Regions from separate parts of the Homo sapiens genome. Here region 1 is linked to region 2. Evidence: fine-mapped expression QTL. A gene starts in region 2. The other region holds a variant in brackets. All regions are shown on one strand. Distances are from middle to middle. Region 1 has its middle 11 kb from the start of MIR661. Region 2 holds the start of PARP10 (poly(ADP-ribose) polymerase family member 10).

Region 1 (11,037 bases), 30 kb after region 2:
CCGCTACGCAGGAGGCTGAGGCAGGAGAATCACTTGAACCTGGGAGGCGGAGGTTGCAGTGAGCTGAGATCGCGCCATTGCACTCCAGCCTGGGCGACAGGGCAAGACTCTGTCTCAAAAAAAAAAAAAGGAATTTCTGGGTCAAGTGGTTTTCAAAATTTAAGCTTTAATTTACATCAAGATACTGTTTTTTACCTATCGTATTGGCAAAAATCAAAAATCTGGATTTCTAGGTTCTGTTGCTGAAGCTGTGGGAACCAGGCCAGAGAAAGCGTCTGTCAGAGCCACAAACGCGCAGTGTGTGTCCGAGCAGACGATGGTCACTGGCCTGAGTGCGCTCAGAGGCTGGGCCCACACGTGCCGCTCTGCATGGCCAGACGTGGGTCACGGTCCCCGTGCAGAGCGGGAGGCCTCCAGCTGTGGGGTGGGTGGGAAAGCAGGGGCAGAATGGTGCCCGGAAGATTTCACCGTTTGTGTTAAAAGGAAGAAAACCAAGAATCACATGGTATTTGCTTGATTTTCTGTAAAGAAATTCTGGAGAAACAAACAGGAAGCCACTAACAGTGATTTTCACACTGTGTGTGTGGGTGGGGGGAGACAGGGAGAAGGGAGGGGAGCAAGACTTCTCTGTCTACTCTCAGTGTTTGAGTCACGTGAATATTTTCTATTCCAACACGATTTTGATTTTTAAAGTTTAGTGAAGGGAAGAATGTAAACTGTTATAAGTTCTTTTTTTTTTTCTTGAGACAGAGTCTTGCTTTATCACCCAGGCTGGAGTGCAGAGATGCAGTCTCAGCTCACTGCAACCTCCGCCTCCCGGGTTAGAGGGATTCTCCTGCCTCAGCCTCCTGAGTAGCTGGGATTACAGGCACCCGCCACCACACCCGGCTAATTTTTGTATTTTTAGTAGAGACGGGGTTTCACCTTGTTGGCCAGGCTGGTCTCGAACTTCTGACCTCAGGTGATCCGCCCGCCTTGACCTCCCAAAGTGCTGAATTACAGGCATGAGCCACTGGGCTTGGCCTAAGTTTTTATTTTATTTTATTGTTTATTTTATTATTATTATTATTATTATTTGAGACGGAGTTTCGCTCTTGTTGCCCAGGCTGGAGTACAATGGCATGATCTCGGCTCACTGCAACCTCCGCCCTCCGAGTTCAAGCGATTCTTCTGCTTCAGCCTCACAAGTAGCTGGGATTACAGGCATGCACCACCATGCCCAGCTAATTTTGTATTTTTAGTAGAGACAGGGTTTCTCCATGTTGGTCAGGCTGGTCTCGAACTCCCAACTTCAGGTGATCTGCCTGCCTCGGCCTCCCAAAGTGCTGGGATTACAGGCGTGAGCCACCGCGTGCCTGGCCAGTTCTTTTTTATTTTTTTTGAGACGGAGTCTCACTCTGTCGCCCAAGCTGGAGTGTAGTGGCATGATCTCAGCTCAATGCAACCTCCACTTCTCCTGCCTCAGCCTCCTGAGTAGCTGGGACTACAGGCGCCCGCCACCACACCCGGCTAATATTTTGTATTTTTAGTAGAGATGGGGTTTCACTGTGTTAGCCAGGATGGTCTCAATCTCCTGACCTCGTGATCTGCCCGCCTTGGCCTCCCACAGTGCTGGGATTACAGGCGTGAGCCACCACACCAGGTTTCAGACACAATTTTTAAACAATTTCTAAGTTGCTGGCTAGGTACTGCAGTCGTCGTCCCTCCAGCAGTGCCCAAGTGGGCCGACTCCTCCCACCTGCCCAGCACCCGGTGTTGGAGCTTCAGACAAGTCACATGGCCTCGCTGTCTGACGGGAACTTGTGTAAGGAGTCTCCTGGCAGAGCCAGCGGGAGGGTGAGCAGAACTGCGGCCGCGTCAGGTTAGCGCGGCATCTGCCACCTGGGCCTCTGCATCCCGGACCCCGAGCCTGGTCCTGGAGCCATCCTGGAGCCGGGGCGTTCCCTGCATCAGCTCTGACCGATCGTCAGTTATCTTATTCCAGCACGTTTTGTGCTGATGAAGAGTTTTTCCTGCTGTATTTTCCTAACTTGTTATTACTGGCCTAAAGAAATCTCTCGGGTCTTTTAACTGCGTTTGAAGCCAGCCTCTCAATGAACTTTCTCTGAGCTCCAGTAAATGGTGAGTTGAGTTGTTTCAGGTGCCAAGAGGAGCAGTGCTGACTTGGGTAAATGCTGTCCCATGTCCTGGCGCTGGACCGAGAGCTGCGCCTGCACCGTCCGCATTCACCCTCACACGCCCTCCCCTCAGCAGCCTCGCCTCACACTGGGAGGGTGCCCCGCTGTGCTACAAGGGTCATTTATTTGCATGTTAACGATGTAAGCTCATTCCTTGTTATAAATACTGGTTTTTATCAAATGAGCTGTCGAGATTTTCTAGATCAATATACCGGTTTTCTCCTTTAATCTGCTAGTGAAGTCAACGATATTAACAGAGTTCTGGGAAAGTGCATTATCCCTGAACTCCAGGAATTCATTTCTTCTCTTGCTCCATGTTTCCTGTGGTGACACCTTCGTGTCTGGTGCTGGGTGAGGCAGCCGCCCCAGGGGCCCACAGGTGTCTCGGTGTTGGAGGGCTGAGAGGGAGGGAAGGGGGAGCCACCATGGATCAGGTGAGAAGCCTCTCCACAGAGGCCTGGCGAGGTCCACCCTGCTGCAGCAGAGCAGGTGCCTGCGTGAGGAGGGCCTCCAGAGGGCAGCGGCAGGGCTGTGGTGGGACCTGCTTGTGCTCGGAGAGCACTGGCTGCTGTTGTCCAGTGCTTGGAGGTGAGGGGCAACGAGGGAGGCTACCACTGTCTTTGAGGTGAAAGGGTGGTGGCCAGGCCAGGGTGTGGTGGAGACAGTGGGCACAGGACAGGTTTGAGAGATATTTGGGAACGATGGGCCCCCTAATGGATGGTCATGTGGGTGGGACCCAGGACCTTCCCCGCAAATTGGTCTCTAGCAGACACCTGGTATTGAGATACTCTTGTACTGGGCTGCAGGGGAGAGAGGAGAAGGATGTGGCTCGGAGAGATGACCTCTGTGCCTCCTGGGCCCTCACTGGGACTCCCAGCAGCCCTGGTGGGCATCCAGTCCCGCAGTGGTGGCCCTCCACCCCAGAAATCCTGCAGGCTGGCTGGCCCGACTGAGCTCGCACTGAGCCCCACCCTGCGCAGGGGTGGCCTCCAGAGCATGGAAGGCTCTCCTCCCACCTGTCCCGCAGCATCCGCAGAGGCCGGGCTGTTGTTGGGCCAAGGCTGCGAGGCAGAAGCCTGGGGCAGGTGAGGTGGCTCCTGTGGACCTGCCGCAGGCTCAGGCGGGGAGCAGAGCAGGGGTCTGTGCCTCCGGAGGGCTGAGTGTGTGCTGGATGTATCTGGCAGGATTTCACTGGGCCTGGTCTCCCTGGGGCTATTGTCGGGGGCCCCAGGTGGAGGTATCTGCCAGCAGGGTGTCTGCCTGTCGCAGGTCGCCTCTGCATGGGGTCACTGGGTCACAGCCCACTGGCCTGCTCCACCACCACCAGAGAGCCCCAGCAGGGCAGGCTGCCAGGGGGTTAGGGGCTGGGTGGGTGGGTGGGCGTGAAGATGGGGCAGGGAGCAAAGCTGAGGGCAGGCAGGGTGGTGGTGGGCAGGGCCTCAGGGGAGGGCCCATCCCATTCGCAGGTGTGGTGTGGGGGACAGGGTTGGAGCCCCTTCTTTGGCCTGGGCCTGTGGCCAGGGCAGCCAGGGCCTGGGGACTGGTGAAGAGGAGGTTGCTCTGTGCCCAGACAGAGGGGTTGGGAAGGAGGGAGGGCTTATCTGTGGTGCCTGGGCTCAACCTTGGTTCTGGGGTCCCCAGTGGTGTGGGGAATTTGCAGAGAGCTTCATGAGGATTTGGCTTTGCCCAGGGTGTGAGACCTGGCCAGGAGACCTGATGGCACCCCAGCTGGGCATGGGGGCCATGCTGGGTTCGACCAGCAAAGCAGAAGCTAGAGGTAGGGGTTTTCCGGAGGCACTGGTGCTGGTGAGCCCGACTGCAGCCTGGGGGTCCCTGCAGTTCACTGGCCTGGACACACAGACCCGCGTGCTTCTTCGGCAAGACTCCTTTGTGATCCATGAATTGGGGCCAGAGCGATGAGATCTCCTGGGCAGTGGCCGGGGCTTTGCTTCCCACGCTCCAGAGCTGCGTCACCAGGGCGCCCAGCTTCCTCTACCCCAGCTCCCTTTCCTCCCCGCTGCCTAAATCTCTTGCTCGTGGGCCCTTCGCTGCCAGCCTGGGACCTGCCTGTCCTGTTGAAATCCCCGGCTGTAGCCCCGTCTCCAGGCGCCCCCCTCCCGGCTGCAGCCACCTCCACCTTCTTGGGGGTTGCCTGGACTTGTTTCCTCTACGGCAAGGCCTTGGTGCCTGTGGCCTCTCTTCCTGTGCTGGCTGCCTGCGGCCCGTCCCCACATAGCTGTCCCTTCCTTTGGGAAGCCTGTGCCGGGAAGGAACCACAGAGCTGACTGACGTGCAGCTGGCTGAGCCCTTCCCAGGGTCATCGTGGCCGCCCCCACTTCCAAGGCTGCACCATGTGGCCACCGTTCCAGGCAGGCTGGGCTGGGCAGTCTCAGGCTCCTTCATGGGAACTTGCTGCTGCTGCAGCTTGTCGATAAGCCTCTGGCTGCGGGAGACCACAGGTGACCATGGTGGCCACTCACAGGCGGGCAGCTTGACTTCAGGGGGGAAGTTAAAGGCGGAGTCGGTGCATGAAAAGCTGTGTGTTCCTTCTCTGAACAGCTGTGTGCCCTCACCTTCTCATTAGCTTGAAACCATGATCCTATCTTTTTGTTTGTTTTCGAGTCAGTCTTGCTCTCTCCCAGACAGGAATGCAGTGGCGCAATCACGGCTCACTGCAGCCTTGGGTGGGCTGGTTCAAGCCGTCCTTCTGCCTCAGCATCCCAAAGAGCTGGGACCACAGGCCCAGGCCACCGTGTCAGGATAGTTTTTTAGTTTTTTGCAGAGACGGTGTCTTGCTTTGTTGCCCAGACTGGTCCTGAATTCCCAGGATCAAGTGATCCTCCTGTCTCAGCCTCGGAAAGTGCTCAGCCACCACGCCTGGCCAATCTTATAACATTCCATTTTATG[C/T]GTTTTAATCCTTTAAAAAAATCTCCCTGGCCGGGCGTGGTGGCTTATGCCTGTAATCCTAGCACTTTGGGAGCCCAAGACGGGTGGATCACCTGAGGTCAGGAGTTCGAGATCAGCCTGACCAACATGGTGAAACCCCATCTCAACTGAAAATACAAAAATTAGCCCGGTGCGGTGGCACACATCCGTAGTCCCAGCTGCAGAGGCTGAGATAGGAGAATTGCTTGAACCCAGGAGGCAGAGGTTGCAGTGAGCCAAGATCACACCATTGCACTCCAGCCTGGGTGACAGAGCGAGATTCTGCCTCAGTTAAAAAAAAAAAAAAAAAAAAGTCTCCCTAGGCTGAGGAAAATTTTTATGCATTAAATTAAAAAAATTGATCTGGACCAGGCAGTGTGGCTCACACTTGTAATTCCAGCACTGGGAGGTGGGAGGATTGCTTGAGCCCAGGAGTTTGAGACCAGCCTGGGCAACACAGAGACAGACTGTCTGTATAAAAAATTAAAAGATGAACTGGGAGTGGTGGTGCACGCCTGTAGTCCCAACTACTCAGAAAGCTGAGGTGGGGGCATCGCTTGAGCCCAGGAGGTCGAGGCTGCTGTGAGCCGTGATTGAGCCACTGCACTCTAGCCTGGGTGACAGAGTGAGACCTTGTCTCAAAAAAACAAAACAAAAAAAAAACAGCATTTTTTAAAAATGTATGAACTTTTTAGATCTCTTTATAAATATCTGTCACTTTCACTTGAGGTTTACTAAGGAAGTATGATTCACTTGCAGGCCAAATTTAGGTTTATCCAGATACAGCTCAGTAAAACCTAGCTGGGAATTCAGCAGTGGCGCGATCTCGGCTCACTGCAACCTCAGCCTCCTGGATTCCAGTGATTCTCGTGCCTCAGCCTCCTGAGTAGCTGGGGCTACAGGCGTGTGACACCATGCCTGGCTGATTTTTTTGTGTATTTTTAGTGGAGATGGGGTTTTGCCATGTTGGCCAGGCTGGTCTCAAACTCCTGACCTCAAGTGGTCCACCTGCCTCGGCCTCCCAAAGTGCTGGGATTCCAGGTATGAGTCCCCGTGCCCGGCCTGAAATTCTGTTTTAATTCCTCACTTCACCATTTTCCTTAAGTTTGGCAACTGGTGTTTCTTGAGACTCCCCACACCCCAACTGGCTGAGTCCCAGGGAGGGCAGGGACGGGCAGGGGGACGAGAGACTCCAGAACTGCTGGGTCTACGGTGGAGGTGGGGCTGGCTTCTGGCCCTTTGCCTGTTAGCTCGTACCCGTGGGAGCTGCCGGCCTCGCTCCTGGATCATGGTCACGTCCTCCATGCCAGCCCCAGCCTGGCGCACAGTGGGTCTGTTTACAGGAGGGGAAGGACTTGCGGGTGAAGGCAGAGGAAAGGCCTTGCTGGAGACTGAGGCAGGCTAGTCACTTCTATCTTGTGGAGGCTGTCCTGCCCCACACTACCAGCACGGACTGGGGTGGAGCACAGTCCCGGGGCCAGTGTTGAAGGGGTGCCCTGGTGTGGGCAGGGCCCAGCATTCCTCCGTGCCCCCTGCAGCGCAGTGAGTGAGGCAGAGCTGACCTCACCCTGCCAGTGCTACCTGCTCCCCCAGGCGTGCGCAGTGACACACAGCTACTCCTGCGGGCTGAGGAGGCTGACCCCATTAGCCATAGGGGTGGTTGGATCAGAGCAGCTGCGAAGGGTCCCTGGTGGTCGTGGGGGGTGGGTGAGGGATGGAGCTGCAGTGTCATCTGGCGGCAGTGGAGATGCTGGCGAGTGGGCAGACTGGGGGGCGCAGCCAGGAGGACCTGTGGGGCTGCCTGTGGGGCATCCTGAGGCTGGGTGGGAGAGGCAGAGACCAGGGTGCAGGTCGGACCTGTCATCTTTGGAGCCAGTGTACAAGGTGCCTGACCCAGGGCTGCGCAGAGGCGAGACGCCCGGGGAAGGGGCACACTGCTGGGGCCGGGGAGGTGGGAGGTGGCCGACCAGGGTCTGGGGGCTTGATCTCAGCAGCCTGCCAGCCCAGGCCCTGGAGTTGGGCCGGCTGAGGAAGTTACTGGGAGATCTGGATGGGTGGGTATCTCCTGCAGGGCGCGGGTAACGGCTTCAAGGCCCTCGCACGTGTGTCCCACAGGCTGTTCTAAGCATGGCTCGTTGCAGTGGACTCGGGGGGCTGTGGGGTGGGCCGGGGGCTGCGGAGCTGGGGAGTGGGCCGTCCGAGCGCTCCTGGATCCGGCCTGGTGACCTGGCAGTCTGGCTGGGGTTAGCGGGGTCGCGTGCCCCAGAACCACAGGCTGGGGGGGAGGGGTGCGCGGTGCGGCCGGGAGCATGCGCCCGGGGCGGCCCTGTCCGGCGCATTGATCAGCTGAAGCCCCGCCCCTGGCCGGCAAGCCCTGCCCCGGACCTCCGGGCTCCTCCCCCGGCTGCGGCGCTGGCCTGGGCAGTGCGGTGCGGGGCTGGACTCTGCCTGGTGGTGGCACAGCCGCCCTCAGCCCCGGCGCAGACATGGACCCCTCGCGAGCCATCCAGAACGAGATCAGCTCCCTCAAAGGTGCGGTCCTGGGGCCGGGCCCGAGCCGGGGGGCGCGGACCACACAGTGACCTCTGGCTGGGTGCAGTCCACGCAGGGTGGCGGGCAGGGTCTGCCATCCCTGGGGTGACACTGTGGGTCGCTGAGCCAGAGCCGCAGGAGACCCCAGACTCGTCCCCCTCCGGGCTCCACCTGGTTCGGGGTCCTACTGGGCTGGCTTCAGCGGCTCCGCAGCCCTGCAGGAGCGTCGGGGGCGGGGTGGCTGCTGCAGCGGCGGCGGCGGCGGCGGCGGCGGCGGGGCGGGGACAGGGACACAGTGGGAGCTCAGCCTTCACAGCAGGGTCAGCCCCTTCCACCCGGCCCGAGTTTGCCGCCCACAACCTGGCGTCCAAGGGGCAGGGCAGGGCTGGGGGACCACTGTGCAGAGGCGCCGGGCCGGCTGGCCCTGAGCAAGTCCACACTGCGGCTCTTTGTCTTGGGGTGGGGTGGGGGGGCTGGGGGCTGCCCAGGAGCCCTGACTGGTTGCTCTGGAAACCCAAAGGGGTCTGGAGTGGGGGGAGAAGGGGCCGCCCAGTCGCACACCCTGGCCCTCCCAGTGCTGAATCAGCTCCCGCTTCGGTTCCCACAGGGTGGGGGCAGGGGGCGGTAGCTTCCGCCCGGGGGTCTTGGGGGACGCCTGGACCCTGGCGCAGGGGTGTGTGTGCTTCGGGGGGGGTGTGTGCTGCAGGAGGTGTGTGCTGCGAGGCGGGGGGGGGTGGCGCATGCCGCAGGGGGGCGTGTGCGGAGCTGGCAGGGTGGGCCAGGAACATTCTGCTCCGGGCTCCTCCCTGCGGCTTCCCTTCCCGCCTGCAGGCCCCTGGCTGGTGGGAGGGAGGGGACTCCCGCCGAGCCCCGCCCCATCTCTGCTGGAGGAAGCTACCGCCCTTTCCTGCCCGGAGCCGGCTTGGGGGAGGCGGGGCTGGTTGGGTGGCGGCCCAGCGGGGGTCAGTCCTGGCACCCCTGCAGGCCTGTGTAGGAGAGAACCTAGGTCCACGTGCTTTTAAGAGGCCTTGGGATCATTTTGGGACAGTGTGGGTATCGTGGGTTAGTTTGGTGGGGCCCTTGGAGATCTGGGGGGGATTAGGTTAGGGAATCAGGCCAGGAAGATGCGGTCGGCCTGCCGGGAGTGCAGGAGGTCAGTGTGGGGGGGTGCGCTGAGGGACTGGCCAAGAGGGTAGGGCCTTCTTTGGGCACAGGGCTGGGCAGGCTTGGACCCAGCTGGTGTTGTTCCCAAAGCCACAACCCTGGTGGGTGGAGGGTCCGCAGGTGCTGGTGGTCCGAGGGGCGTGGCCACTGTGGTCCCTACATCTTCCTGGAGCCTCACCTCCTGAGGCTGGCCTTTTCCTGCCTGGGGCTGGCTTCAGAGGGAGGGAGAGCCATGCCGCAGCGAGCTGGCCCTGCCAGAGGGCTGTGGGAACCGTGGCTATGCCTTCGGAGTTTCCCCGCCACCACACCTCTGTGTACGCAGGCGTGCGCGTGCGCGTGCGTGTGTGCGCGCGTGTGTGTGTGTGTGTGTGTGTGTGTGTTTGGAGCCTGCACCGTGGCGCCATGGCGACGGCCCCATAAACCCGCCCCCACAAGCTGCTTGTTGGCCGCCTGCCGGCTGCTGGCCAGCGCCTCCCACCTCGGGATCCCCCCTCTCTCCCACTCCCCCCCACCGCCCTATTTATAATCAGTTCCCGGGTTTGCCGGGCTTGGTGGGAAGGGGTGTGTCGGCTTGGGGCGAGCAGCGATACGGGTGGGGGTCCATGGAGCACAGCGTGGGACAGTGGGAGTGTTGGGTGCGGTTCTCATGCCTGGACCCTCAGTGGGGGCGGCAGCAGCGGGGCGGGGAGGGGGGGGTGGATGATGGGTGTGGCTGGGCCAGGCCTGCAGGGCCTCACAGGGCAGTTTCCTCTTCCCTTCCCTTGGGCCCTGGCCGTCTTCTGGCCTGGCATTCTTCCACCCTGCAGCCATCCATCTGGCCTGCAGACGGGCACTTGGGCTGCCCAGGGTGGGCATCTGTGGGCGGTAGGGACTCGGTGACTTTCTCTGTGGCAGCGGCTGGGAATCTCTGGCCTCCAACAGCTGGGTTGGAGGTGGGGGTGAATTGAGGCCCCTCTGAGCCCCCTAGCCGGTGCTCTGCTCAGAGGGCTGTGGGCTTGGAGAGGCCACTCCTAATCTGGCCTGGAATGGGAAGTGTTAACTTGAGTGGCCACTGCCTCTAAGCCTGGTGTGTGGAGGTGGGGGCTCTGTCCGTTTGCCCGCCTGATGGACAGCAGCAGCGGTGCCTGCAGCCCTCCTCATGTGCTGTGGCAGCTGCCCCCAGCCGCTCCCCTCGGACTTCCTCCCGCAAGACCCCAGCTTCTTCCCCAGGCCCTAGTCCTCTCCGCTCAAGCCTCGCATCCCTCATCCCTCCAGGCCTGGCAGCCCAGCACCCCCCTTCAGATCCTTGTGAAGCCGGGACACCAGAGCCCACATCCCTGCCGAGTACCCCTCCTGCCCTCAGCCCCCCTGCCTGCCCTGCCACCCTCTTCTTTAGACTCTTGGTCTATATCCGCCCCCACTTGCCCCAGCACAGTCTTAGGGACCTTGAAGGATGTGTTTAGAAACTGATGTCATTTCTGACGTTGGAGCCGTGGGGCCTGGTGGGGGGAAAGGGGCAGCTGTGGGGGTGGCCGCTGCCTCTTGAGGTGCCCCCCACTCTACAAGGGCCCCGTCGGCTGTGGGTGGGAGGGGCCGCCCATGCTGCTGAGTCAGAGGGGGCCGGCCCGGCGTCCTGGAGGAAGGCGGGCAGCCGGCAGTGCCGGCAGGGATTGCACGGAGCCAGGCGCCACGAGCCACACAGCCGGGAGCCCGCGCCCTCACGCTCAGCACCCCAGCCTGCCTGCCCGCCCGCCTGCCCTGCCGCTGCCCGCTGTCACACCCTGTAGCGCGGGAGCTTCTCGCAGCGCCCCGGGCCTTCTCGTGGTACCCTGCCTGCTGCCTTTGCCCCCGCACTGACTGCCCGGCTCCAGCAGCCATGGTGGCCGGCATGCTCATGCCACGGGACCAGCTGCGGGCCATCTATGAGGTGCTCTTCCGCGAGGGCGTGATGGTGGCCAAGAAGGACCGGCGGCCCCGCAGCTTGCACCCCCATGTGCCCGGCGTCACCAACCTGCAGGTCATGCGTGCCATGGCGTCCCTGCGGGCACGGGGCCTGGTCCGCGAGACCTTTGCCTGGTGCCACTTTTACTGGTACCTCACCAATGAAGGCATCGCCCACCTCCGCCAGTACCTGCACCTGCCGCCAGAGATCGTGCCCGCCTCTCTGCAGCGCGTGCGCCGCCCCGTCGCCATGGTGATGCCCGCACGCCGCACCCCCCACGTGCAGGCTGTGCAGGGTCCCCTGGGCTCCCCACCCAAG
Region 2 (11,037 bases):
CCACCTTGCGGATGAAGGCCTGTCGGATGCTCTTGTCATCCCAGTTGGTGGCAGGGAAGTCCTGGTTGTCATAGTAGGATGGGGGACCCTCCTCCTGGTAGTTTCCATGCTGGGGTGCTGAGAAGCAGACAGGCTGGGTCAGCGCCACTCACAAGCACCTCCCCCTGCCCTCCCGGCCACCCCACCCCTCCCTTCCTGAGACTCACAGTCAGGGTCTTGTCCTGGGAAGACCTGTGGCTGTCCATAGGGGTTGGGGGGGAAGGGGCTCTGGGGATATGGCCCCTGGGGGTAGCCCCCTTGGGGGTAGGGGCCCTGTGGGTAGCCCTCTTGTGGGTAGGGGCCCTGTGGGTAGCCCCCTTGGGGGTAGGGACCCTGTGGGTAGCCCCCTTGGGGGTAGGGGCTGGGGCCATGGGGGTACCCTGGCTGACCGTAGGGGGAGGGCTGGAAAGGGGGCTGTGGGTAAGGGGCCCCAGGGTAGGGAGGCTGAGCATAGGGGGGCATGGGTGGCTGGGGCCCCCCCGGATATCCAGGGTTGGGGGGAGGATAGTTGTCCCCAGACACCAAAAAACTCTTTTCATGGGACATGGCCTCGGGTTCCGCGGTCCGCCCCTAGAGAAGACAGACAAGGAACAGTGGAACAGTTGGCTTGACGACAGCGTCGGGACCCAGCCCTGCGCAACTCCACCTGCTTCTGGGAACCCAGGGGGAAGCAAGGGAAGACCGTGACCTTTGCCCCGGGCTGTGGGGAGCCCCGGAGCCTGGGCCCGGAGAAGCGCGTGAGGACCGGACGGGCGGCGCCGTGGGGCCTTCCCAGGGCTCTAGGCCGCCTTTAGGGTGGGGGAGGGGCCGGGCGAGGGGACGACCGCCAGCCTCGGGATTTGGGGCTTGGGTCGTTTCTCACAAGCAACCGGAGGCCTGCGCCGCTGCCGGCGTCTCCCGGGTGGGAGCTCAGCGCGGAGGCTGGGGTCTCGGCCGGGGACGTGTGGGGTGTGCCCGGACCCTCCCCTCCGCATCCCGCCCCTTAAGCAGCTTTAAGGGGCCGGAGCCGGCGGCTATTTCTATCCCAGGAAATCCCCGGGCCATCTGTGACCAACAAAGGCCCGAGCCCCCCCACCCCCGCGAGCCCAACAACAGGGCCCAACGGCCCCTGGCTCCGGGGTGGGGGGATCGGGCCTGGATCGGCTGCCGGTGCCTGCCAGTGGGGTACGCCGGGAACAGCGGGGTGCGGGGGTGTGTGGGGGATGGAAGCGACCACGGGGCGTGCGGGGAACAAAGCGGGCGTGGGGCGAGGCGGGTAGGGGCTGCGGCCGTGGCACTGGCACCGAGAGCGGATGGGCCCTCCGCGGGCCGGGGGCGCACAGGGTCACGGGTCCAGCAGTCGCCGCAGCGCGCCGCCCCCTCCCTCCGGCTCCAGGCCGCCGCGGCTCCCCGCCCCCACCACCGCCGCCACCTCTGGCCGCGAGCTGCCGCGCGCCCCGGCCGGACCAACTTACTGACCCGAGGCGGCCACGCTCGGATGCGCAAGATCCGCGTGGGGGCGGGGGCGGGGGCGGCAGGCCGCGCGGCGCAGCGGGTCAGAGGCGCTCCTGGGCTCGGGCCGGGGACTCACCGGTGGCCGGGCGCCGCAGGCCGGTACGCACGGTGTCCGCTGCGCGGCCGCGCGGTGATGGCCGATGCGCCCGCACCCGCACCCGCTCGGCGGCCGCTCAGCTGGGCCTGCGCCTGCGGCTCGGAAGACGCAGCGGGGCCTTGTGACGGGGCGGGGCAGGGGGCGGGGCCGGGCGAGCTTCGGGGTGGGAGGGGCAGGTGGGCGGGGCTTCCGCGGACCCCTCCCGCTGCGCCGCCTTGCGTGTTCCTCTTCGCTCCGGCCAGAGGCCCGCCTCTCACTGTCTGCCGAGGGGTGGGGTCGGGCGGTGGGCGCTGAAGACCCCTGGAGGCAGAAGTCTGGTCTGGCCAATTTGACTGGCCGTTCGGTAGTTAAGAAATTTATTCCTAAATGCGGGATTTGCTGAAGCTGCCCGGGACTGACCGTCCGTTCTCGGCCTTAAAACCCGACGTTCACTTCTTTTCATCCAGATCTCTCCCAAATCAAGAAGCCTAATCCTTTAGTTCCCAAATCGAGGCCTCGTGGTTTAATTGCCCCATTTGCTCTGTCAGCCCAAACTCTGCCAGGCCTGCTACTAGAGACCCTTTTTTATTTTTTTAATTCTTGTGGATACATAGTAGGTGTATATTTACGGGCTACATGGGATGTTTTGATACAGGCATGCCATGGATAATAATCACATCAAGGTAAATGGGGTATCCATCAGCTCAGGCATTTTGTCCTTCGTGTTACAAACAATCCAGTTATACTCTTGGAGTTGTTTTAAAATGTACAATTATTCTTGACCACAGTCACCCTTTGTACTAACAAATACGATGTCTTGTTTTCACACTAGAGACCCTGAACGCTCGCTTGTCTGCCTAACGTCCTCACAAGCTGCGAGGGGCTGAGGCTTGGGGATGCAGCAGGACTGGAGGCCAGGCCACCTCCCTGCTTAGCTCCCAAGTCCTCTTGGGGGAGCAGTGACTGACACAGGCAGGGTACATCCTGCTGCCAGCCTTCCCACCCGGGGCCCAGACCCCACCTGCCCTCCCGCCCTTGGAGGGCCGGCCTCTCCCAGGCCGCTCTGAGTCCTGCACCTATGGTGCGCTGGCGCAGTGTTTAGCAGCCGGACCTAGTGAGGGGAAGCCTGGGGTGCGTGTTTTGCACATGCGCGTGGTGTGAATACTCCACCGGGGCTGGTTTCAAGTTACCCCCAGCTGGACAACCAGTCCACAGAAATTCCCGAAACTGTACCAGTCTGCTTGTGGTGTGAGTGGTGCCTGTGGCAGGCCCTCTGCAGCCAGGGTCGGCGTAATGGATAACCTGTGATGAGTTCCATTAGAGAAAACGTGGAAAAAGCAGGGATGGATTTACCCTTGTAGAAGGTAACTTCTACCTTTGTAGAAGCAGAAGCTCACAAAATTTGAGAGACCTTTAAGAAAAATAAAATGCTTGCTGGGCGCGGTGGCTTACGCCTGTAATCCCAGCACTTTGGGAGGCCGAGGCGGGTGGATCACAAGGTCAGGAGATGGAGACCATCCTGGCTAACACGGTGAAACCCCGTCTCTACTAAAAATACAAAAAAAAATTAGCTGGGCGTGGTGGTGTGCACCTGTAATCCCAGCTATTGGGGGGGCTGAGGCAGGAGAATGGCTTGAACCTGGGAGGCAGAGGTTACAGTGAGCTGAGATCGTGCCACCGCACTCCAGCCTGCGTAACAGAGTGTGACTCTGTCTCAAAAAATAAATAAATAAGTAAATAAAAATAAAATAGCTGGGTATGGTGGCTGGCACCAGTAATCCCAGCACTTTGGGAGGCTGAGGCAGGTGGATCATCTGAGGTCAGGAGTTTGAGACCAGTCTGCCCAATAGGGTGAAACCCTGTCTCTGCTAAAAATACAAAAATTAGCTGGGCATGGTGGTGCGTGCCTGTAATCCCAGCTACTTGGGAGGCTTAGGCAGGAGAATCCCTTGAACCCAGTGGGTGGACGTTGCAGTGAGCCGAGATCACGGCACTTCACTCCAGCCTGGGTGAAAGGGCGAAACTCCGTCTCAGAAAAAAAAAAAAAAAAGGCAGAGTAAGGGAGATCATGCCAGAGGGGTGGCCATGGGGGTTTGTGGGGAAGGTAGGGCCAAGCAGAGGGAAGGGCCAGTCCCAGGCTACTGAGGCAGGAGTGGCCTGTAGCTCTGCAGGAAGAGCTGAGAGCCTGGAGCCCTCTGAGCATCAGGGTGTGCAGGGGGCATGGGGCCAGAGAAGGGACTGAGGTCTGGTCAGGTGCAGCTGGGCAGGGGGCAGGTCCTCAAAAGGACTTTGGGTTTTTGTTTTTTTTTTAGACAGAGTCTCACTCTATCACCTTGGTTGGAGTGCAGTGGCACGATCTCAGCTCACTGCAACCTCCACCTCCCAGGTTCAAGCTATTCTCCTGACTCAGCCTCCTGAGTAGCTGAGATTATAGGCACCTGCCACCATGCCCGGCTAATTTTTATATTTTTAGTAGAGACAGGGTTTTACCATGTTGGCCAGGCTGATCTCAAACTCCTGACCTCGTGATCCACCTGCCTCAGTCTCCCAAAGTGCTGGGATTACAGGCATGAGCCACTGCGCCCGGCCCCCAGGACTTTGGTTTCTACTGTTGCTGATGCTGGGAGCTGTAGCAGCTGCTGGTGTCATTTTACAAGGCTCACCCTGACACCTCTGTTGAGGACCCACCATGGGAGTGGCAGACAGAGACTAGTTAAGAGGTTAGCCTAGCTACCTAGCGAGAGATGCTGGAGGCTGGGACCAGGGTCGGGGCAGCAGAGGTGTGGCATGTGCAGGGCTAGGAGTGCAGGCTGGCCAGGGTCCTCAGCTCCCTGGAGGGAGGAACAGCAGGGGTGGGGCTGGGTTTTGGTGGGCTGAGGGGTGAGTGGGAAGTAGGAGATGGAGAGTGGTAGTGGCCACAGCTCTTTGAAAGGCTGGAAGCAAACGGAGCTTGGGTGATGTGGGAGATCTGTGGCGAGTGGGAGTGTGGACTCTGAAGGCACCGCCCAGGTTTGAGGCCTGGTGCTGCTATGGGCCTGTCTGCACCTCCGTTTCCCTTTCTGTGGTGAGGATTAGCGGCAGCAAGGAATGCAGTGGAGCCATTACCTTGTCACCTTCTGAGGTTACTTGTGACGATGCCAATGATGGTGTGAGATGGGGAGGTGCAGGCAGGACAGAAAGCTGCAGGAATGGGCAGGCAAGACCTGAGGCGGGAGGAAGGCTGTGCTGCAATGCACATTCTTGGAGACCAAGGGTGGGGAACCGCCCATGCTCAGCACCTGGCAGGTGTGAGGGACCAGGAGCAGGGTTGAGAAGGTTGCTGGGGGCGTTGAAGGCCAGCCTTGGCCGGGGGCGGGCCTGGAGACCCAGCACTTTGTGTGCAGAGGGTGTCATGGACACAGAGGCTTGGAGATCCTGAGTGAGGGGCAGTGACTCAGGCCCCTTGGTGGGTTTAGTGGGGCGGGTGATTGGCCATTTTCAGGCCATGGAGGCCAGGGGAGTGGAGGGCCACCAGGGGACACTCCTGTCTACCCTGCCAACCAGGGGCTGGAGTGGGCCAGGTAGGGCCGGTGGGCTGGGCTGGGTTGGCTGGAGGGTCCTGAGGGGTCCAGCCTGGCCAATACCTCCTGGTCAGCTGGGGGTTGAGGCTGCAGCAGGAGAGGAAGCATCTGAGCCCCAGTACCCAGGCCTCAGCGCCCAGGGCCCAGCTGCTCCCTCCCTCCTTCCGTCTTTCAGTTTCACTTTTGTTTTCCTGCTCCCAGCAGGGTTAGGCTTGCTGAGGGGCAGGCACAGGAGTCCTGGCTGAGCTCATGGCCTGAGGCTGCCTAGCGGCCACGGGGAATGTAAGTGCTGTATGTGGGGCCACCCATAATGGGGGAGCATTGAGGACACACCTTGGAGGGGCCTGGGGAGGGGCAGGAGGGGTGGAATGGGCTGTTTCCCTACCCACCTGATGCCCCGTCCCAGGGTTGCAATGGCGGAGGCAGAGGCAGGGGTGGCAGTGGAGGTCCGTGGACTGCCCCCTGCCGTGCCCGACGAGCTGCTCACTCTCTACTTTGAAAACCGCCGACGCTCTGGAGGGGGACCTGTGTTGAGCTGGCAGAGACTGGGCTGTGGGGGCGTCCTCACCTTCAGAGAGCCTGCAGGTGAGAGGGCTGGCTGAAGGGACAGCCTGGGTGCCCTGATATTCTAATGCCTGACATCCTGCCCCGCCCCTGCCCACAGACGCCGAGAGGGTCTTGGCCCAGGCAGATCACGAACTACATGGTGCCCAGCTGAGCCTGCGGCCAGCTCCACCACGAGCCCCTGCACGCCTGCTGCTCCAAGGACTGCCCCCTGGCACCACGCCCCAGCGCTTGGAGCAGCATGTCCAGGCCTTGCTGCGGGCCTCGGGGCTCCCAGTACAGCCTTGCTGTGCCTTGGCCAGCCCCCGGCCAGACCGGGCTCTGGTCCAGTTGCCCAAGCCCCTTTCTGAGGCAGGTGAGAGGCAGGGTTGGGGTTGAGGTGCTGGCTAGGGGGGATTCCCTGAGCTGACCTGCACATACCCCACAGATGTCCGTGTCCTGGAGGAGCAGGCCCAGAATCTGGGCCTGGAGGGGACCTTGGTGTCCCTGGCCCGGGTTCCCCAGGCCCGAGCGGTGCGTGTGGTGGGGGATGGTGCCTCTGTGGACCTGCTGTTGCTGGAGTTGTACCTGGAGAATGAGCGCCGCAGTGGTGGGGGGCCCCTGGAGGACCTGCAACGCCTACCCGGGCCCCTGGGCACTGTTGCCTCCTTCCAGCAGTGGCAAGGTGAGTGGGGCTGGGCAGACCCAGCCGACCGTCCCTCTCCTGCAGAAATCTGACAGGCTTTCTGTCCTTTCCCTTCCTCCAAGTGGCAGAACGAGTGTTGCAGCAGGAGCACCGGTTGCAGGGCTCAGAGCTGAGCCTTGTCCCCCACTACGACATCCTGGAGCCCGAGGAGCTGGCTGAGAACACCAGTGGAGGGGACCACCCGTCCACCCAGGGGCCTAGGGCTACCAAGCATGCTCTCCTGAGGACCGGAGGGTTGGTGACGGCTCTGCAGGGTGCAGGGACTGTGACAATGGGCTCTGGCGAGGAACCAGGGCAGTCAGGGGCCTCTCTGAGGACAGGTCCCATGGTGCAGGGTAGAGGGATTATGACAACAGGCTCTGGCCAGGAACCAGGGCAGTCAGGGACCTCTCTGAGGACAGGTCCCATGGGGTCTCTGGGACAGGCAGAGCAAGTCAGCTCGATGCCCATGGGGTCTCTGGAACATGAGGGGCTGGTAAGCCTGAGGCCTGTGGGGTTGCAGGAACAGGAGGGGCCCATGAGCCTGGGGCCTGTGGGGTCTGCAGGCCCAGTGGAGACCTCTAAGGGGTTGCTGGGGCAGGAGGGCCTGGTGGAAATTGCCATGGACTCACCAGAGCAAGAGGGGCTGGTGGGTCCCATGGAGATCACCATGGGGTCTCTGGAGAAGGCAGGGCCTGTGAGCCCAGGATGTGTGAAGCTGGCAGGGCAGGAGGGCCTGGTGGAGATGGTGCTATTGATGGAGCCAGGGGCGATGCGCTTCCTGCAGCTCTACCATGAGGACCTTCTTGCGGGCCTGGGAGACGTCGCTCTCTTGCCACTTGAAGGACCGGATATGACTGGCTTTCGGGTGAGTGACCCCTCAGGACTCCTCACCTTCAGCCCCCTCCTCCTACTGGGGACTCAAAGTACCTTTCCTGTGCTCTAAACCTGCAAACTCCATCTCTGCAATGGCCCTGCAGCTCTGTGGAGCCCAGGCTTCCTGCCAGGCGGCTGAGGAGTTTCTGCGGAGCCTGCTGGGCAGCATTAGCTGCCATGTGTTGTGCCTGGAGCACCCGGGCAGCGCCAGGTTTCTCCTGGGCCCAGAAGGGCAGCACCTTCTCCAGGGGCTGGAGGCTCAGTTCCAGTGTGTCTTTGGGACAGAGCGCCTGGCCACAGCCACGTTGGACACAGGCCTTGAAGAGGTAGAGATGGAGTCCCACCCCTGCCCTCCCCTTTCTCACGCCTCTGCCCCAGGCCTCCTCTGCCCTTGCCCAGAGGCTAGTGGTCCTGACATCCTCTCCCTACAGGTGGACCCTACCGAGGCCCTCCCAGTGCTCCCTGGCAACGCCCACACCCTGTGGACCCCAGACAGTACAGGTGGTGACCAGGAGGACGTGAGCCTGGGTAGGGCTCCCTGGGAGCCCTCAGCACATCCTGTGGCCCTCACTTGACCTCACCCCCTGCCCTGCTCTGTGCTCCCATCTGTCTACTGACCCATCTTAGGCCCACCCTGTACCCTAAAAACTTGCTCCCCATCTTTCATCCATTCCAACTCCTCCTGGGTCCAGCCCCTGACCCAATGGCCTCTCCCTGCCCCCAGAGGAGGTCCGAGAACTGCTGGCCACCCTGGAGGGCCTAGACCTAGACGGGGAGGACTGGCTGCCTCGGGAGCTGGAGGAGGAAGGGCCTCAGGAGCAGCCAGAGGAGGAGGTGACCCCAGGGCATGAGGAGGAGGAGCCTGTGGCCCCCAGCACTGTGGCACCCAGGTGGCTGGAGGAGGAGGCCGCTCTGCAGCTGGCCCTCCACCGGTCACTGGAGCCTCAAGGTCAGGTGGCTGAGCAGGAGGAGGCTGCTGCCCTGCGGCAAGCCCTAACCCTCTCCCTGCTGGAGCAGCCCCCGTTGGAGGCAGAAGAGCCCCCAGATGGGGGGACTGATGGCAAGGCCCAGCTGGTGGTGCACTCGGCCTTTGAGCAGGATGTGGAGGAGCTGGACCGGGCGCTCAGGGCTGCCTTGGAGGTCCACGTCCAGGAGGAGACGGTGGGGCCCTGGCGCCGCACACTGCCTGCAGAGCTGCGTGCTCGCCTGGAGCGGTGCCATGGTGTGAGTGTTGCCCTGCGTGGTGACTGCACCATCCTCCGTGGCTTCGGGGCCCACCCTGCCCGTGCTGCCCGCCACTTGGTGGCACTTCTGGCTGGCCCCTGGGATCAGAGTTTGGCCTTTCCCTTGGCAGCTTCAGGCCCTACCTGTGAGTCTACCTCCTGGACTGAGGGACGGTGGGGTGGGCTGGTTAGCAGGGGCTAGTGCCCCAGGCATGGCTCTGACCCCCCGCTTTTCCCCATGCATCAGTGGCGGGGCAGACGCTGAAGGGGCCCTGGAACAACCTGGAGCGTCTGGCAGAGAACACCGGGGAGTTCCAGGAGGTGGTGCGGGCCTTCTACGACACCCTGGACGCTGCCCGCAGCAGCATCCGCGTCGTTCGTGTGAGTCCATGCCCTGTCTCTCTGGCCTCATGGCGTCCTGGGCTCTTGCACCATTAGCGCCTTGCCAAGTCTGTGGCCTGTCCCTCTCGCCTACATCAAGGTCAGCTGACCAGGAGCTGACAGGCTCCCAGCCCTGTTCTCTGCCCAGAGGGCGTTCCCAAAGTGGGTAGGGAAACAGGAGGGAACAGAGTGGGGGCCTTGGGATCTGATAGGCCTGAGTGAGGGTCCCCACTCTGCCACTCGTGGCTGGGTCAGCAGGGACTATGGGACCAGCTCCAGGCCTCAGTTTCCTTATTTGGAGCATGGGGCGGTGATGCCATCTTGTGGTCATTTTGAGGATTACTCGCTCCACAGATGCGTCCCTTGTGCTGTTCTGGGCGCTCTTCTGCCTCCACAGAAAGGCCCGGGCTCGCTGCGGTCACTGTGCTGATGACACTGCGCGGGGCACTCTCTTTTTTGAGACGGCATCTCGCTGTGTCTCCTGGGCTGGAGTGCAGTGGCACGATCTCGGCTCACGGCAAGCTCCGCCTCCCGGGTTCACGCCATTCTCCTGCCTCAGCCTCCCAAGTAGCTGGGACTACAGGCGCCTGCCACCACGCCCGGCTAATTTTTTAAAAAATATTTTTAGTGGAGACGGGGTTTCACCATGTTAGCCAGGATGGTCTCGATCTACTGACCTCGTGATCCGCCCGCCTCGGCCTCCCAAAGTGCTGGGATTACAGGCGTGAGCCACCGCGCCCGGCCTTGCACGGGGCACTCTCAACTCTTGATGCCCAAAGTTGTGCGTGGGGCCAGCAGCATCACCCTCCACCAGGAGCTGGTCAGAAATGCAAAAAGAACCTCTGGCTGTCCCCAGACCTCACCACCATCATCACCACCATCACACCATCACCATGACCCTCACCACCATCATCACCACCATCATCACCATCACCCCATCACCATCACCACCACCATCACACCATCACCATGACCCTCACCACTCACTGTCATCACCACCACCATCACCATCACCATCATCACCACCACCTTCACCACTCACTGTCGTCACCACCATCATCACCACCACCTTCACCACTCACTGTCGTCACCACCATCATCACCACCACCTTCACCACTCACTGTCGTCACCACCATCATCACCACCACCTTCACCACTCACTGTCGTCACCACCATCATCACCATCACCTTCACCACTCACTGTCGTCACCACCATCATCACCACCACCTTCACCACTCACTGTCGTCACCACCATCATCACCACCACCTTCACCACTCACTGTCGTCACCACCATCATCACCATCACCTTCACCACTCACTGTCGTCACCACCATCATCACCACCACCTTCACCACTCACTGTCGTCACCACCATCATCACCATCACCTTCACCACTCACTGTCGTCACCACCATCACCACCACCTTCACCACTCACTGTCGTCACCACCATCATCACCACCACCTTCACCACTCACTGTCGTCACCACCATCATCACCACCACCTTCACCACTCACTGTCGTCACCACCATCATCACCATCACCTTCACCACTCACTGTCGTCACCACCATCATCACCATCACCTTCACCACTCACTGTCGTCACCACCATCACCACCACCACTACCACCACCACCGTGGCCACCATCATCACCACCATTAGCATCACCACTGTCACCGTCAGCTTCACCAACACACCGTCACCGCTCACCGCCACCAGGATCACCACCACCCAGACGCACTGACCTCATATCCTGGTGGTTTTGTTAATTATACGTACTTGGTTCTTCCGGTGAGCACCTTGATGACTTTAAATGGTATGCTTGAATTTAGTGAGCACCTTGATGACTTTAAATGGTATGCTTGAATTTTTTTTTTTCACTTGACAGCTTTAGAGATTGTTTCTTGCCTTCCCGCATGGAAGATGAGGAGAATGGGCCTCGCTTCTCTCTCTTTTGCCTCCTCCCTCATCTTCCATCTCAATTTGGTCAGTTACATTATTTTTATTATGTCGTAAAGGTTTCTGTAACTATCACAAAGCCTCCATGCGTGGGCCATAGGTTGGTAGACATACTATAATAATGAAAAAACATTTACCACTGAGCCATAGAAAGAGAAGTGAAATCCTAGTTATTAAAATTCTGTTCTGTAAAAAAGA

Evidence for each region. PIP is the estimated chance that this variant, and not a neighbour inherited with it, causes the effect.
Region 1: its variant is the best candidate, but not a certain one, in a credible set for the expression of PARP10 in whole blood (INTERVAL, PIP 0.54).

Annotation. Positions count from the first base shown.
Region 1 is chr8:143,950,323-143,961,359 of GRCh38, reverse strand. It overlaps a transcript of PLEC not described here. Among named protein-coding and RNA genes, the nearest start is that of MIR661, 11 kb to the right of the region's middle. RefSeq lists enhancers at 3,124-4,027, 9,640-9,829, 10,714-11,037 and silencers at 7,340-7,639, 7,880-7,949, 8,200-8,249, 8,320-8,669, 10,360-10,499. The variant C/T (reference allele first, on the strand shown) is at 5,085.
Region 2 is chr8:143,980,772-143,991,808 of GRCh38, reverse strand. PARP10 (poly(ADP-ribose) polymerase family member 10) reads left to right here and starts at 5,349. Exons shown (of 11, transcript NM_032789.5): 1 at 5,349-5,451; 2 at 5,576-5,754; 3 at 5,834-6,088; 4 at 6,161-6,397; 5 at 6,481-7,265; 6 at 7,378-7,599; 7 at 7,705-7,801; 8 at 7,998-8,642; 9 at 8,744-8,877. The coding sequence starts at 5,450. It overlaps GRINA (glutamate ionotropic receptor NMDA type subunit associated protein 1), which reads right to left and starts at 1,753. Exons shown (of 7, transcript NM_001009184.2): 1 at 1,610-1,753; 2 at 207-609; 3 at 5-117. The coding sequence starts at 585. RefSeq lists enhancers at 1-8, 4,673-5,576, 5,247-5,686 and silencers at 672-721, 554-848, 772-1,031, 1,162-1,301, 1,322-1,821.